Homo sapiens: one gene and its partner. The protein of the gene in region 2 interacts with the protein of the main gene of each other region in a pairwise test. Each region holds a gene or a part of one and is shown on either strand. Other genes may lie near its edges.

Evidence for each region.
Region 1: the proteins of SYNPO (region 2) and CDC5L interact in binary tests that used the Homo sapiens proteins (3 or more experiments, as listed by UniProt).

The regions. Positions count from the first base shown.
Region 1 is NC_000006.12:44,383,044-44,390,953, forward strand, and holds the start of CDC5L (cell division cycle 5-like protein), read left to right. Parts: upstream 1-4,662; 5' UTR 4,663-4,780; coding exon 4,781-4,825; exon of another isoform or gene 4,826-4,876; intron 4,877-7,224; coding exon 7,225-7,328; intron 7,329-7,910.
Region 2 is NC_000005.10:150,636,429-150,643,894, reverse strand, and holds the start of SYNPO (synaptopodin), read right to left. Parts: upstream 3,236-7,466; 5' UTR 3,041-3,235; intron 1-3,040. UniProt on the Homo sapiens protein: Actin-associated protein that may play a role in modulating actin-based shape and motility of dendritic spines and renal podocyte foot processes.

The DNA of each region.
Region 1 (7,910 bases), on a different chromosome or scaffold from region 2:
ATGATGAAGATTGTGAGAGTCATTAATCCTGCCTCTAAACTATGCCTTGCTGTTGCCATAGGCTTTTGCCCCTAATTTTAGCCCTTTCCTGCATAGTTTCTTGGTGGTGAAAAAACTGGATGAAAGGGAAACTAGAATTTTGATTACTTTCTCTGCTAAGTAAATGTCAATCCATTCAGAACCAGCTACCCAGAGAGGGGTGAGGGGTAGGGAAATGGGGACAATGCAACCTAAAAATCCTCCTGCTAACATCTCTGGTTCCCCTTTGTAAGTTGGATGGACTTCTAACCTCTTTTTCCTGAGCCAGAGTTTCCCAAATTGTGTTTCCTGAGTGTCAATGGATATATAACACAAAAGGTTTTTAGGGTCAAATTAGTTTGGAAATGCTATATAGTAAGTCCTCATTTTTATCATTGTTAGGTTTTTGGAAACTGCAACTTTAAGCAAAAGGATGTATCATGTAATCAATTTTACCATAGGCTAATTGATATAAACAAGAGTTAAGTTTCTATGGCATATTTCTGGTCACAAAACATCAACGAACTTCTAAACAAAGACCAAAACACTTCTAATATTAAACATTGAAATAAGTGTAAGCTATGCATACATTTAAGAAAGATTAGGCTGGGCACGGTGGCTCATACCTGTAATTTCAGCACCTTGGGAGGTCAAGGGGGGCAGATCACTTGAGCTCAGGAGTTTGAGACCAGCCTGGGCAACATGGTGAAACCCCATTTCTACAAAAAAATACAAAACTTAGCCAGGCATGGGGGTGCACGCCTGTAGTCCCAGCTACTCGGGAGGCTGAAGTTGGAAGATTGCTTGAGCCAGTGGGGTGGGGGTCAAGGCTGCAGTGACCCGAGACTGTGGCACTGCACTCCAGCCTGCACAGAGTGAGACTCTGTCTCAAAGAAAAGAAAAGAAAAGAAAGATTAATAAAAACAAGAAATGTACTCCCGCTTATTCCAGTTCAGGGTTACAGGTGGCCGGAGCCTATCCTGGCACAAGGCAGGAATCAGTTCTGGACAGCACACAGGACACCATCCCATTGCAGGGCACACTCACACACCCTGACACTCACTCAGACTGCAGGCTTGCAAATGAACCTCACCTGCACAGCTTTGGGATGTGGGAGGAAACCAGGGTATCTGGAAGAAACCCACACAGACAGTGGCCCTGGCCTCAAGCGGATTTTTTTTTTTTTTTGAGATGAGGTCTCGCCCAGGGTGGAGTGCAGTGGTGTGATCATGGCTCACTGCAGCCTCGACCACCCAGGCTCAAGTGATCCTCCCATCTCAGCCTCATGGGTAGCTGGGATCACAGGTGTGCACCACCATGCCCAGCTAATTTTTAATATTTTTGTAGGGATGGGGTCTCACTATGTTGCTCAGGCTGGTCTCAAACTCCTGGGCTCAAGCAATCCTCCTGCCTTGGCCTCCCCGAGTGTTGGAATTACGGGCATGAGCCACCATGCCTGGACTCATCAATGTTATCATGAAACGATCTTGCACAAAATGATGTTATTCAAGGATCTGCTGTATTAACAAAGGAGTGTATTAGCTTCCTAGGGCTGCCACAAGAAAGCACAATAAACTAAGTGGCTTAAAACAAGAGAAATGTATTCTCTTACAGTTCTGGAGGCTGGGAGTCCAAAATCAAAGTGTCAGCAGGGCTGGCTCCTTCTTGGGGCTCAGAGGGAGAATGTGTTCCATGCCTTCTCCTGGCTTCTGGTGGCTGCCAGAATCCTTGGCATTCCTTGGCTTGGAGCTGCATCACTCCAATCTCTGCCTCTTTCTTCCCATGATATTCCCCCTGTGTGTCTGTATCTTTTTTCTTCTCCACTTATAAGGACACTACTCATTGGATTTAGGGACAACCTACTCCAGTATGATCTCATTTTAACTTGATTACATCTGCAAAGACTCTATTTCCAAATAAGGTCACATTTACAGGTAGCAGGGGTTAGGACTTGAACATATCTATTTGGGGGGAATACAATTCAACTCTCAACAGGGAGAAACAGATTTTTTCATCTGACAGCTTCTTACAGGCTTTAATTTCAGTGACTCTGCAAGAGGGGAGGACATAAAAACCATGTTTTTTTTTATTTTTTGTTTTTTTTTAAATGGAGTATTTTATGTAACTGGTGTTCTAAGGAACATGTTTGGGGAAAAATGCCTTGGGTGAGTGAGACTATTTAGCAGTGGCCACTCACTTTACCAAAGATTCACAGTGACTGACCATATAGTCTGGTTGCCTAACGATAGATGCTTCTTATGGCTGTCCCTCAAGAGATTGTTGGCAGTCCCTGTGGCCTCTTTGTAAGGGTTCCCATACCTGGCTGGTGAGGCTGCAGTAGTATGGTGGGGGAGGCTGGCCAAGCAGGCCATCCTGGAGAACAGTGTGTTTGTGTTCTGATGTTTGTGGCTACAGTGCTCTGGTTTCAGACATCCTGGAACTTCCATGATGTTGCATTTTTCTGAATTCTGAAAGGGAATATACAATCTGCATGTTCAAAGGTGAAATGAGGGACAGTTGACAGGGCTGTTTTACCTGGATGAGTAAGTTGTACAATGCATGTCTCTAGGGGTGGAATTCACATAGTGGAGATGGTAGATCCAATTTTCTTGTAATAGAGTGCCCTGTTCTCAGAACACCAGTATTTTGTGACAATTTTCCAGCATGTGGCATAAAGTGTCTTGAGGAAGGGGCACCTTTTTCTAGTTCTCACAAAAGTAACATATGGTAAAGAGGTGGCCCTGAGTGGGAGGGAGAAGCCTTCATCAACTCTTGGAATGTGAGATCTGAAAGGCCTCTGACAGAGTATTGGTCCATCTCTGGAATTGTTAGGACTCTTCCTTACAAATAATAGAAACCCAATTCCAAGTGGCTAACACAAATAGGAAACTAATAATCAGAATGCAAGGACAGGAATGCAGCTGGGACTCAGGAACATGCTGGATCCAGGTACTCTGACATGGTCAGGACTTACATCTCTCTCTTTACCTGCTTTTTTCCCTTAGTCCAAAACATGGTGGTAGACAACTCCTGGGTGTCACGTGTTGGATGTTCAGCAGTCAGTAGAGACTGACCTCCTCTATGCTCCAGTGTTAAAATCTCGAAGACCTAGTATTTGATAGCACAACAGGGTGACTATAGTAAAAAATAATTTAATTGTACATTTAAATTAACTAAAAGATTATAATTGGATTGTTTGTAAAACAAAAGATAAACACTTGAGATGATGGATACCCCATTTACCCTGATGTGATTATTATGTGTTGTATGCCAGTATCAAAATATCTCATGTACCCCATAAATATGTGTGTACTATGTACCCACAAAAATTAAATATAACAAATTAAAAAAAAACCGCCCCATTACAGGAGAGGTCCAAATGAAAACATTTTGTTTGAGTTTAACTGGCCACAGGTCCAATGGTTTCTTATACACCACACAGTGGGTAAACAGCTCAAGGGCGGGCTGCCCGCCAGCATAAACCTTTGAGTGGCAAACACTACCAGGGTGGCCATGGAAAATGCCCTCTTGCTGACCATAATTGCACAGAATGTGTGTAAATAAAAGCTAAAAGGAAAAAGAAAATTCTGTAGCTCTTCCAGAAGAGGCAAACGGAGAAATGAAGAAATATAAAGAGATAGGCACTATATAAATACTAAGTACTATAAATAGGGCATTTCCCAACCCACTAAATATTTTGATATTTTCCAGGGATGGAGCCAGAGATGTTCTGGAAGGATGAAGGAGACTGCATGAGTAATTGGGGTGGGGTAGCAGAGAGTTTGCCAATCCCTACCTCACTGGGTTTTAGTTATGTTTCAGTTAATCTGCCTCCTCATTTACGAGGCGGGTATTGTTAGCTCCACTTTTCAGATGAGGATACTGAGATTCAGTAAGGTTATTACCCAAACTTATGAGAAAGCCAAGATTTCACAATATTTCAACCCAACTCGACTTTGTCTAATACCAGTGCGTACCAATGGCATTATTAATCCAGACTGGGCGATGAATTAAAAACTCTGACGTGACGTTTCTGCAGGTTTCTGGAAGAAGCCTGGATCACCTGGGGACGGGGTGAAGTTGGCGTTGCCCTCCTTGCAGTAATAGCTGCTATTGTTTTGCAGCAGTTATTATGGATCAGATACTGTGCTGGGTCTATGATCTCATTTAGCCCTTACGACAATCCTGTGAGGTTGGCATTACTATGATCTCTATTTTACAGGTTAGGAAACTGAGCCTTAAATAAACTACTGGATTTTCCTGAGTATTCTGTGAATAAATTCCTATTACTGAAATACTTGAAAGGGCTAGATTAATAAATTAACAAAGCCTTCTTCGGAGCAACTGTGCTGAAATTCCGTACGCGTGACGTTCCCACCCTCTGCCACTCGGTGACGTCACGATCAATCCCACCACTAAGTTCCCAGCCAAGCGCTACCGCCGCTATCTCGCGAGAGCCGTAGTTTCTTCCATTCTGTTTTGGACATGCGCGGGGCGTAAGGCGCTTTGGCCAGAGTGGTTTGATGGTTTTGTGTTAGTCTTCCTGCAGCTGAGCTTCCACAAGACACTTTTTCCCTTTCAGCCACCCAATATCTCGCGAGACTTGCTATTCTGCGCCCCCTCCCACCTTGCGCTTGCGCAGATCTTCAAAGCAGAAGGTCGCGCTTGGAGGAAGTGGCGGCTTTGAGTCCGGTGGCCCAATCGCTGTTACTACTTCTCTGAAGCTCCTCTCGGCTGCTTGCCGAGACACCCTGCCGCCAAGATGCCTCGAATTATGATCAAGGGGGGCGTATGGAGGAATACCGAGGTAAGTCTCCTTTTCCCGCCGTCCGCTGCCCGCCGCTCCCTCTAGCAGCTTGTGCGCACGCGCGCGGAGGTCGGGGGGGCGACGAGGAGACCCTGTGGGGTCTGCGTGGAGGGCAGCCCGGGGGCTGACCCTTGGGGCCCTTTCCGTGTGTCTGGCCCCGTGTTGTGCGAGCGCCAGTAGGACAGGGACCGTGATGTCACCACCTGGCTACTCGGCTCCAAGCTCACTTGTTAGGCCCTGAGTGAACATTTGTTGACTTGAATACGCCCCCTCCCACCCCGCCCCCCCGCCCCCCCCGGCCCCGGGAAGAACTCAGAGTTCCAACTCAGCCAGAGTTGGTCCCCCGGGGCACCATCCACTCTTAGTCCAGGCACCACGACTCTGTCTCATACTCAGAAATAAAGAAGTTGCCGTGGCCACAACTTTGTGTCTCCATTGACTTCCTTGCAGAGGGGAAGCAGTTTGAGTGCCAGGTTCAGAGAGCCCGTTTATGCCCGCATCTCTCTGGTTATCTGTTATCAGGGCATAACCTGTCTGCCATCTCGACAGATCCCAAGGTCTGTCTCTTTCTGTCACTGCCTTTGCCTAGATAGAAGCCAGAAAGGAAAAACTGGCCTAGGATAGTCTCTGTTTCCAGAAACGTAGTGGATAGTGCCATTGGTGAGCCAAAGGGCAGTAGAGTGGGAGTGAAATAGAAATTAGATTTTAGTGCGTTTTGTGTTCAGAGTGTACCGAATTTATCAGTTTCTGGAGCACATCATGTCTTTTCATGCTCTGTGTCTTTTTTTCGTTACATTTTATGGCTTCTTTTTTTTTTTTTTTTTACATCTTTTGCCTTCCTAGCGCTTGACATCTTTCTGATCATCCTTCAAACCTAGTTCGGAAACACTTCTTGGAATCTCTGTAAGAATTAATTGCACCCCCGATATTCTCATGATACCTTTTTCTTCCGTTTGTTAAAACTTGCTTTGTCTTTTTGTAAGCATCACATCCTCTGTGTGGTACTCGGTAAGTTTCTTAACTTCTGAAAGCCTCAGTTTTCTACTTTTTCTAAATTGGGATAATAATACTTAACCTCTCTTGAGGATTACACGAGTTAATACGTTTGGAATATTTAGATCAGAGTAGGGCACATAGTAGCCTCTGAGTAAGAGCTAGTTGCTCTTTCACCTCACCAGACAGCATGGCGAGAGGACCAGGTCTTGGTATCCCTAGGACCTAGGACAGTAACCAACATGAAGTAGGTTGCTCGACAGGTATTTGCAGAATGAATCAAGTAGAGTAGGTATCTGCTGTATCTATTTAATTGAAAATGTGTTTAAGTGTAGTTGTACTGCAACCAAGTTACAAAAAAGACAATGAAAACTGCCTCAGCTTCCACCGAGGGAACCAGACTGTTTAAATTGGAGAAGAGATGACTTCTGAGGGAGAGACAGATATAAAATCAAGTAACAGTAGGATTCCTATGCAGTGGTCAAAGCTCTGCAGTCTTTTTAAAAAGTATCTTTGATCATGGGAGATGTAGAGGATGGAGTGGGGTATCTCAAGAGGCACGTACCTCAAATCCAATGTGGGAAAAAAAGCCTAGAAGTAAAATCGCCTAAGTGCATGCATCTATGGCTCCATTAACTTTCTTGTCTTTGGCTTGGCTTGCCAGGCTTCCTTGAGGTTGGTGCATTCCACATGGCAATGGGTGCCCTGGTGAAATGGTATCTAGAGATGGGGGGAAATTGGAAGGAGAGCTGACTAGTGGGGTTGGGGTAGAAATATGTAATTCTTAGGTTAGACCTGAGATGTGGATTCTTGGGTCATAGTTGGGGTTAAGGGGCTGGAGGGGAAATGCCATGTATAAACTTGAGACAGGAGGCTTGGATTGGAGAATATATTCACCAGAGTCCCAACTTGCTTCTTGAGGCCTGGATATGTCCTGTTTGATAAGACCTTTCCCCAAGGGAAAGGTAGATGTTTCAAGGTAGATGTTCAGGAAGTGTTTTTTGAGTGAGTGTATAAATGAATGAGTTATACATTTTTGTTGTTGTTGTGTTTTTTAGTTATCCTTTTTGAAGAGAAGGACAGCCACACGTTGAAGAATACTTTTTCTTAATTTTTGTCATAAAGTAGGGTTTCTCAGATTGGGCTGTTCCCACTCCCAATTTATTGGAGAGTGTGGTGTAAGGGTGGGTAGCTGTCTTTCTAAGGGATTTCTTCTTAATTTCTCAATTCTTGGTTGCTGTTATTATAGTTAATGAGGTTTTCATCCTTAGTCTTTTAACCTAGGTGGTGTGTATGTGCATGTTATATGTCTCTTTCTCCAATAGCCCTATCAGAGTTAATTTAAATTTTGTCTTTTCCCACTTGGAGTTTTGTGACTGAATGTACTCTTTGGCAATTTTTTTTAGGATGAAATTCTGAAAGCAGCGGTAATGAAATATGGGAAAAATCAGTGGTCTAGGATTGCCTCATTGCTGCATAGAAAATCAGCAAAGCAGTGCAAAGCCAGATGGTATGTATCAGTTTAATAAGTGGAAAACAGAAAAGGAGCTTAATTATGATGATGGAAAATGTCAACTCTGTGAACCTTATCAAAGAAAGCAGACATTGTAATATAACAAGGCATGGAGTGGGAGATGGAAGTTGGGTGTTTGACTTAGCTGTCACTTGCTTCCTGTGTGGTCTTAGGCAAGCCATTTTTCTATCCCTCTCCCCTGCCCTTGTTTTCTCCCAATTAGGGATAATAATACTTGGTCCTGACTGATAGAGATGTGAGTTGTCATCTAAATGGGTTAATGTATTTGAGAGTGCTTTGTGAAGCATACAAAGTCTACTTTCAGGGACAGATGAGCCCCAGCTTGTAAATTAATTGTGTTCTAAAAGTGCATAAGTTAGCTGTTTTAGAAATTACTTGCTCAAAGAAATAAATGATAAATAATGGCTAATTTTCTAAGTAAGCCTACAGTAGTTGAGTTTCCTCATAATACAGTTGAAATATTATATATTTTATAGTTAATATGTTATATATTATATATTAAACATACTTAATGTTATATATTATATATTAAACATATTTAATATGTTATATATTATA
Region 2 (7,466 bases):
CCATCATCCGCTTTCTTGATGTGGTTCTGCCTCCCCAGGCTGCACAGAGAAAAAGTCTTCTCAGCCGGGCGCGGTGGCTCGCGCCTGTAATCCTAGCATTTTGGGGGGCCAAGGCAGGTGGATCACGAGGTCAGGAGTTCGAGACCAGCCTGGCCAATATGGTGAAACCCCATCTCTACTAAAAATACAAAAATTAGCCAAGCGTGGTGGCGGGCGCCTGTAATCCCAGCTACTTGGGAGGCTGAGGCAAAAGAATCGCTTGAACTAGGGAGGCAGAGGTTGCGGTGAGCCGAGATCACGCCACTGCACTGCAGCCTGGGCAACAGAGCGACATTCCATCTCAACAACAACAACAAAAAGTTTTCTCTTTCATTCCAGCCTGACAGCCCTGCAGAGATTTGCAGATACATCAGATCCCCTTGGGACAGGGTCAGGATAAACATCTCTAGTCCTGCCAGTGTTTCTTATGACACAGTTGCAGCAATAGTAGCTAATATTGATTGGTCACTTACTGTACACCTATACACAGACTTTACTCATATTATTTAATTTCCAAAACAAACCTACAAATCACAAACTATTATTATGCACACTTTATTGATGAGAAATCTACGGCTCAGAGAGGTAAAGTGAGCTGCCCACGATCACAGAGCCAGAAGGAGTAGAGCTCTGTTCACACCTGGCTCTACGTTACTGCAGAGAGCACCAGGCTCCTGGCTGGCCGGTTCCCACCTTGCAAGGCTCATAGAAAGCACTTCAGTGTTTGATTACTCCAGACCTCTCAATGCCCCTGCATTTTTCTGCTTTTCTCCTTACTGGCTCTAGAAGGCCATGGGTTTAGAAAATCCTCAAATGTCAGAATATGAAGGGCCTTTAGAAATAAGCTGGCCTGGGAGGCCCAGCCAAGGAAGAGGTCAGAGAGGAGGATGTGAGCCCAAGACCAGGTCAGCTGACTCTCAGTGAGGCTCCATGCACAACCTGGGCTGCCGCTAAGATCCCATCACCACCACCTCTCTGAGCTTAGAACTGCTCCCAAGCTACTGTTCTGGAACAAGAGGAATGGCAGAAAAGGCCAGGAGGTAAGAGAGCCCTGCCCTCCAAGGCAAGCTCCTGCAGCCCGCACTCCAGCCCACAGTGACTCCATGGAAAAGGAATTCAGCAGGAGGTTTGGACCAGATCCAGCCAGCCATCCAGATGATTTTCGCCACCCTTCACAAACAAAGCTGGGGAGGCGGGGGGACACCCTAGAGTCCCTCGTAGCAGGGCACCAGGGGGCAACTCCATCTAAAATTCCTCAGACTAGGGAGCTGCCCTCTCTGGCAATATCCCAGGCAGCAGCTGCTCAAGATCATGCTCTTGGTGTCAAAGGTGGGGGTGGGGAGGTAGCCAAAGGCTACAGGGGACAGGTACCTCATTGAACCCTCAATCGGCCTGGCTGTGGCCTGCACTTGTGCAAGTCATGATGTCCCCACCGCCTCCCCACCTAAACTTCTGCAGGGCCAAGTTGGGGTGCTAGCCCTTTAAAGACCCACCCTGGACACTGGATCAGGAGCCCTGAAGATAGGCCTTCAAGAGAGGAAGGGGTGGAGGGCGGGCACAATGAAAAGCTGCCTGGGGTCAGGAGACCTGGGTCCAACAGGGTAAATCCTGAAGTGGGGGAGTAGGCGAGAAGCCCCAGCACAGCCATGAGAAGGGGCTTTGCAACGACTGCTGTCACTACTGAGCCCCTGCTGCAGCCCAGGCTCAGTGCTGTGCACTTTATGCTCACCACCTTGTTCAGTTCTTACAACAGCTCCCAGACATAAGTCCTGTGATTCTTCTCATTCTGCAGATGAAACTGGGGCTCAGAGAGACCTGCCCAGGGTCACACAACTTATGAGTGGCAGAGCTGGAATCCAAACTCAGAAAAGTCTGGCTCTGAGTCTAATCTCTTAACTATTCTCCTTCCAGACTAGGACTCTGGAAAGAGGAGAAACAAGAGAGGCTCCAGTGCTCTTGGATGATGGTCTGCAAAGCCCTCTGCTCCCTCATCTTGTGATCAATGCCCCTCAGCAATGTCTTCTCCCCTGAAAACCCAGCTGCCTAGAACAACTCCTTCTTTCTTCCACTTCTTCCTTTCAGGAGAAGAGTTGATAAACTCATTCTTACTAAGGTAGAAAGGACTGATAAGGCATGAAAGATGAGTAGAGTGGGAAGATCACTATGTTGGGAGTCAGAAGACCCCAGTTCTTGTTTGGCGTAGAAAGGGACAAACCCTTTCCCCCACCCCTACCACCCACTGTGGACAGCTGCTTGTTCTGCCCACCACTGGGGCCCGTGTGGATGGAGGATCCACAGGAGGGAGGTGGGGCCGGGGAAGGGAGGCCAGAGCAGAAGGTCAGGACAGGGAGAATTCAAGGAAATGCTTCTTCACACGATGCCGTCAATGGGAGTGTCCAGCCAGGGTCAGGTGGGGCGGGGTGGGACAGAGAGCCAGGGGTAGGAATAGAGATTGGCTCAAGGCAGCCCATTGTGGTAGTCCAGGGGTCTTGGCGACAGGAAGGGTAAACAGGCTGGGTAAACTGCCCCCCTGGTGAGGTCAGGAAGGAACCAATGACTGGCCACTGCACAACCTCTGGCTCAGCTGGGGGCAGGAAAATGGAGAGGCCTGAGTAATGGCCTGGCTACCTTGCCAGCCCCTTCCCCATTCCTCCCACTGAAAGGAGGAAATGACACAGGCTCCATGCCCTGGAGAATTCTCCATCCCCAGAGTCATGGCGAGCGCAATCTGACTGGGGTCGGCAGACTGCCAGACCTCCTCTTGGGAGGAGAACAATCTAGACTTTGGTGGGAAGGACTGCCGGGCATGGGAGAAGACACAGAAATGGGGTGGGGAGCCCCAGGCCCAGCCCCCGCCTCACCACTCACAGGCTGGCAGAAATCACCACATACCTCTCCCTTGATGCCCAGAGGACAGACTAAGATCAGAGGGGGGATGCCACATGCCCTAAGTCATATACCCCAAGCCACAAAGGCACCTCCGGGTGCTCATCTTACTCACTCTGCTAGGTCCTCCCTGAAGCCAAGCTTCCCCCTGGATGCTCCTGCCGGCCTTCAAGCCTTGGTTCTCAAAGCCTCCGGCAAAGGCAGCCAATTGCTTGGCTGACGAAGCCAGGAAAATCCCACATCGGCAGCAACATGAAGGAGCTGGATGTGACTTTTCTCCTCCACAGATGACTCAGCCCAGCTCTTTATCAGGAAAACCGATTTTGCAACAGCCTTTTAAATGGCCTCTCCACCCCCAGTCTCTCCCCCGCCAATCTACCCGCCCCACGCTGCCAGATTCATCTTCCTCCCTCCGGGCTCCACTCATGCCTCTCTCCTGCTCAAAACCCTCTGCTGCCTCCCCAGGACATGGAGGATCAAGAGGAGAGTCCTCATCCTGGCATTCAAACCCCTGCTATCGGGGCCTGCCCAAGAGCTCACTCACCTTCTCTCTGTGCCCTCAGCAACAGTGGAGGGAGTTCAGTGGCTTGCAGTTCCCACAGCTGCCCAATGAATTCCTGCCTGCAAAGCAGCGTTTGCACAGACCCCCTCTACCGGGAACCCTCCTCTGTCTCACATCCTTTCTACATGCCCTAATCCTTCAGATTTCCGGCCTACCTAGAATGCCACCACCCCCTCCAAAAAGCCTTCACCAATGTTCTGTCTGCATCACTTAATAACCACCACCTTGTGTATTATTTATTCTAGTAAAAGTAATCTTTCAGGGTATACTCACCACATGCCAGGTAGCAGGACAGGGCCTTACTTCACTTACTTCCACAGCAACCCATGAGGCCAGCACTATCCTCATCTCCATATTAGAGAAGACGCTGGCTCAGAGGGGTGCAGCAACTTGCTCAAGGTCACACAGCCAGCCAGAGGAAGAGCTGAAATTCAAGCCCAGGTTGGCCTAATGCCCAGTGCAGGGCCAGTCACGTGGGCCATGCTGCCCCCTCCCAGTGTTTTGCTTTGTAGCAATGAGGGTCTGGGCCCTATTTTCCCCCAGAGACTGCAACGGCCTCGAGGGCAGGGGCCTCTACTGCTTCACTTCGGTATTCCTCCCTTGTCCCCACCACATCTTCCATTGGCACTTGCAGAATAAACATGAAATCTATGAGAATGACAAGAGCCAACATTTTGGGAGCACCAGATGCTGCCAAGCCAAGGGTTTAACATGCCTTTTTTCATTTAATCCTCACAGCAACTCATAGAGGAGGTTCCCTTATCCCCATTTTGTAGATAAGGAAGATGAGGCACACAGAAGCAGCTAACTCACCCCAGGTCTCACAGCTTAGCAAGGGGCCCCTGCGGTCTGACTGATCTCAAGCCTGGACGCCTTCCTTCTGAAGAGCTCCCCACAAAGCAAATTCACCTTCCTTACTCACCCATCCAGGCCCAGCCCAACGGCCACTTCTTGTAGGAAGCCCTCATCAATCCATTCAGACTCCTAGATCAGTGCTCCTCCCCTGTTCAACCTGGCCCAGAGGCCCCAGAGCAGGAACAGAGCTCAGAGGAAACGGCAGGTTGAGAAAACTCAGAAACCCAGGGGAAGGAGGCTGGGCCTGGCCAAACTTCTGGTTTCTCTCTGCTGGCAGTGGGTCGGGATCAGGGAGGGCAGAGATGGATGGGTAAGGGGAAGCTAAGATGAGGGCTCCACAGTCAGCGCAAGCCTGACCCATCTTCTATCCTTGCAGACCACAAGCCCTGCTCCCTGTTGGCTGACCAGGGCCCTGCCAAAGGCCAGGAGCCACAGCCTCTCTCTTGCCCATTCTACTGGGGTAATTATTAATCTATAATCAGTCAATTTTTAGAAACTTTGAGATGGTAACCCAGAGAGAGGCAAGCTGAGCCCCAGGTATACAGCAAACTGAAAAGGGAGGGCTCACAGAGAGGATCACAGGATCACAGCCCAGGCTTCCACCTCTCCAGTCCAACCCTGGTGAGCTAAGCCTGTGCTCACGAAGCCCCCTCCTGCTGTTTCACTCTCCCCAGCCCCAGCTCCCTGGAAGCCTTGGGAGTACAGAAAGAACCATCATACCCTGCCTTTCCAGAGAAAACACATAATCTAAAAGACAAAAAGGTGGCAAGCCAGGGCAGGGAAAGAGGTGGTTTCCCCTAAACAGTGCCTCTGCCAGGGTCAGGGCAGGGCCTAGGTCATCTGCGGGTCCCCTCCACTCTTCCCAGGGCCTGACACACTCTGGGCCCGCCACAAAGATGTGGTCCTTCCCCTTAGCCCTGTGCCAGCCTAGGGCCAGGACTGGTCTCTGTCCTCTGTAAATGTCCCCAGACTCAGCAGAAGCCATCACCCAGGAGGGGTTGAAACCATCACTGTGTTGATTAAATAAACTACTAAAGGACAAGCACTTCCAGAATCCAAAGCCTCCCCCTTCACATTTTGCTTCACCATTCATCCCTGGAGATGAATTTTAGATTTGTCTAAATCCAAGATTCATCTAGATTCTAGATCAAAGATCTAGAGGGTGGTTCCTGGGAGTGGGAGGAGAAGGAAGGAGAGAGCAACACGTTTGTGAGGGAAGGAGATGAAATCTCAAATCACTGTGTTAGACCTAAGGGGAAGAATGTTTCATGAAGTGAGGGGAGAACATACAACCTAAGAGAAAGATGAATTAGGATGAAGCAATCCAGGAAGTCTTCCTGGAGGAGGTGACATATGTCCTAGCTCTTGAAAGATGGAGATAAGGAAGCATTCTAAGCAATGATGATAGCTCAGCAGAGACTAGGAGGTTCAAGATAACCCCCACCCCACTCCCCTACCTACCCCCATACCCCAAATCAAGACCAGCTGAATAGAAAGGAAACTTTGATAGAGGAACACACCCACTGGGCTTGCCCAGAGGCCAGGGGTGAATGGGGAGGGCTAGGCACAGTTCCACAGGAGCTATGTACATTACCAGGCTCATGCCCGGAGACCAGAACCTGGGCCTCCGGGTGGGTTACATAACTGCCCCCAACTCCTTGGGCCACAGAGCCAGCTGGGACCCTCCGCCTCCACCTCTCCTGCCATCTGTCTCAGCAGCTTCCTTCTTATAGGAAAGGACGCCGTGCAGCCCAGCTGAAAGTGAAGGACAGCGCCCTGTGGTAAATTCCCCACATTCCTTCCTCACAGAAAAATAAATAACTCAAAGAAAAAACGCAGGAGGAACGATAATGACAAAGTCACCGCACATGGGGTAAACAACAGAGAGATGAGGTTTATCCCCAGGAGGCGTCATCACCAGCCTGGGGCTCTGGGACAGACAAACCTGCCCCCAACCCCTGCGGGTTCCCCAGACGGGGTCTCAGGCGCGCTCACAGCTGCCAAAGAAGGCGCTGGGAATCCCTCAGTCGTGGCAGGTGGTCACCGTGTGCAAACTCCTCAGGGGCCGGGTGCAATCATGTTCATTACTCAAGTTGCTGCTTACTGAGCACTTCTAATGTGCGAGGCATTCGGTTTCAGTGTTATCATTTTTCATCATGTTGTTTTATTTTATCCTCACAGGCTGTGAGTTAGGGAGTACCATTATTCCCATTTTACAGATGAGGAAACTGAGCCTCAAAAAGAAAGGTTTTGTGATTTGTCAAGGTTATTTGGCCAGTGAGTGGATTGTGGGTTTCCAGCCGGCCCCTCACTCCCGAATCCATTCAGCCTGCCCGCTCCTCCCACAGACAGCCCTCCTTTACCAAATCCAATCAGAGGTGCAGCCAGTTCTTCCCCCATCTATGGCTCAGCAAGGCATCCTATTCAAATTGCTGGGCTACCTTCAGTAAATCACTTCACCTCTCTGAGTCTCAACTTCATCATCAGTAAAACAGGGATAATAATATCTGCTTTGCAGAGTAGCTGCTGAGTAAATGAAATGCAGCAATGATTTCTAAAGTATAAAGCACTGTGCACACATTGGGGGGTGGTTAACTGTAGGCTTTTGCACACACCCACCTCTGCGTAACTCGACCAGGCTGGGGCTGTATCTGTCTCTCTCCCTGTCTTCACCACCCCTCTCTGGGTCTGGTCTCACTCTTCTGCTCATTATCAGACACAGTCCAACCCCATCCCCCTTCCCAACACCCCCCACCCCGCGTTCTCTCTGCACAGGGGATCCCCATGTCACTTCTAGCCAGAACCAGTTTTGAACCCCAGGCCCCCTCAGAGGAGGACACCATGGCTCTGGGGTGCTGGAGGCTGCTGACCCTGCCATGGCCCTCTCCTCTGCTGCCATTCACCAATTACCAGGCAGGTCTGGCCCCACTCCAACAGGAGGAGTCTCCTGCCAGGGAGAGGCTGAATCATGCAGTCCTGCCCTCCATGTTTCCCTCAAATTATAAAAGAAAAGAAGACTAGAAGTCAGGAGATTTGGTTCCAGGGTCTGTCCTGTCACAATTTGGGTGAGACACTGGGCTGATCCCTGACCCTCTTGGGGCCTCAGTGCATCCAATTTGTCCAA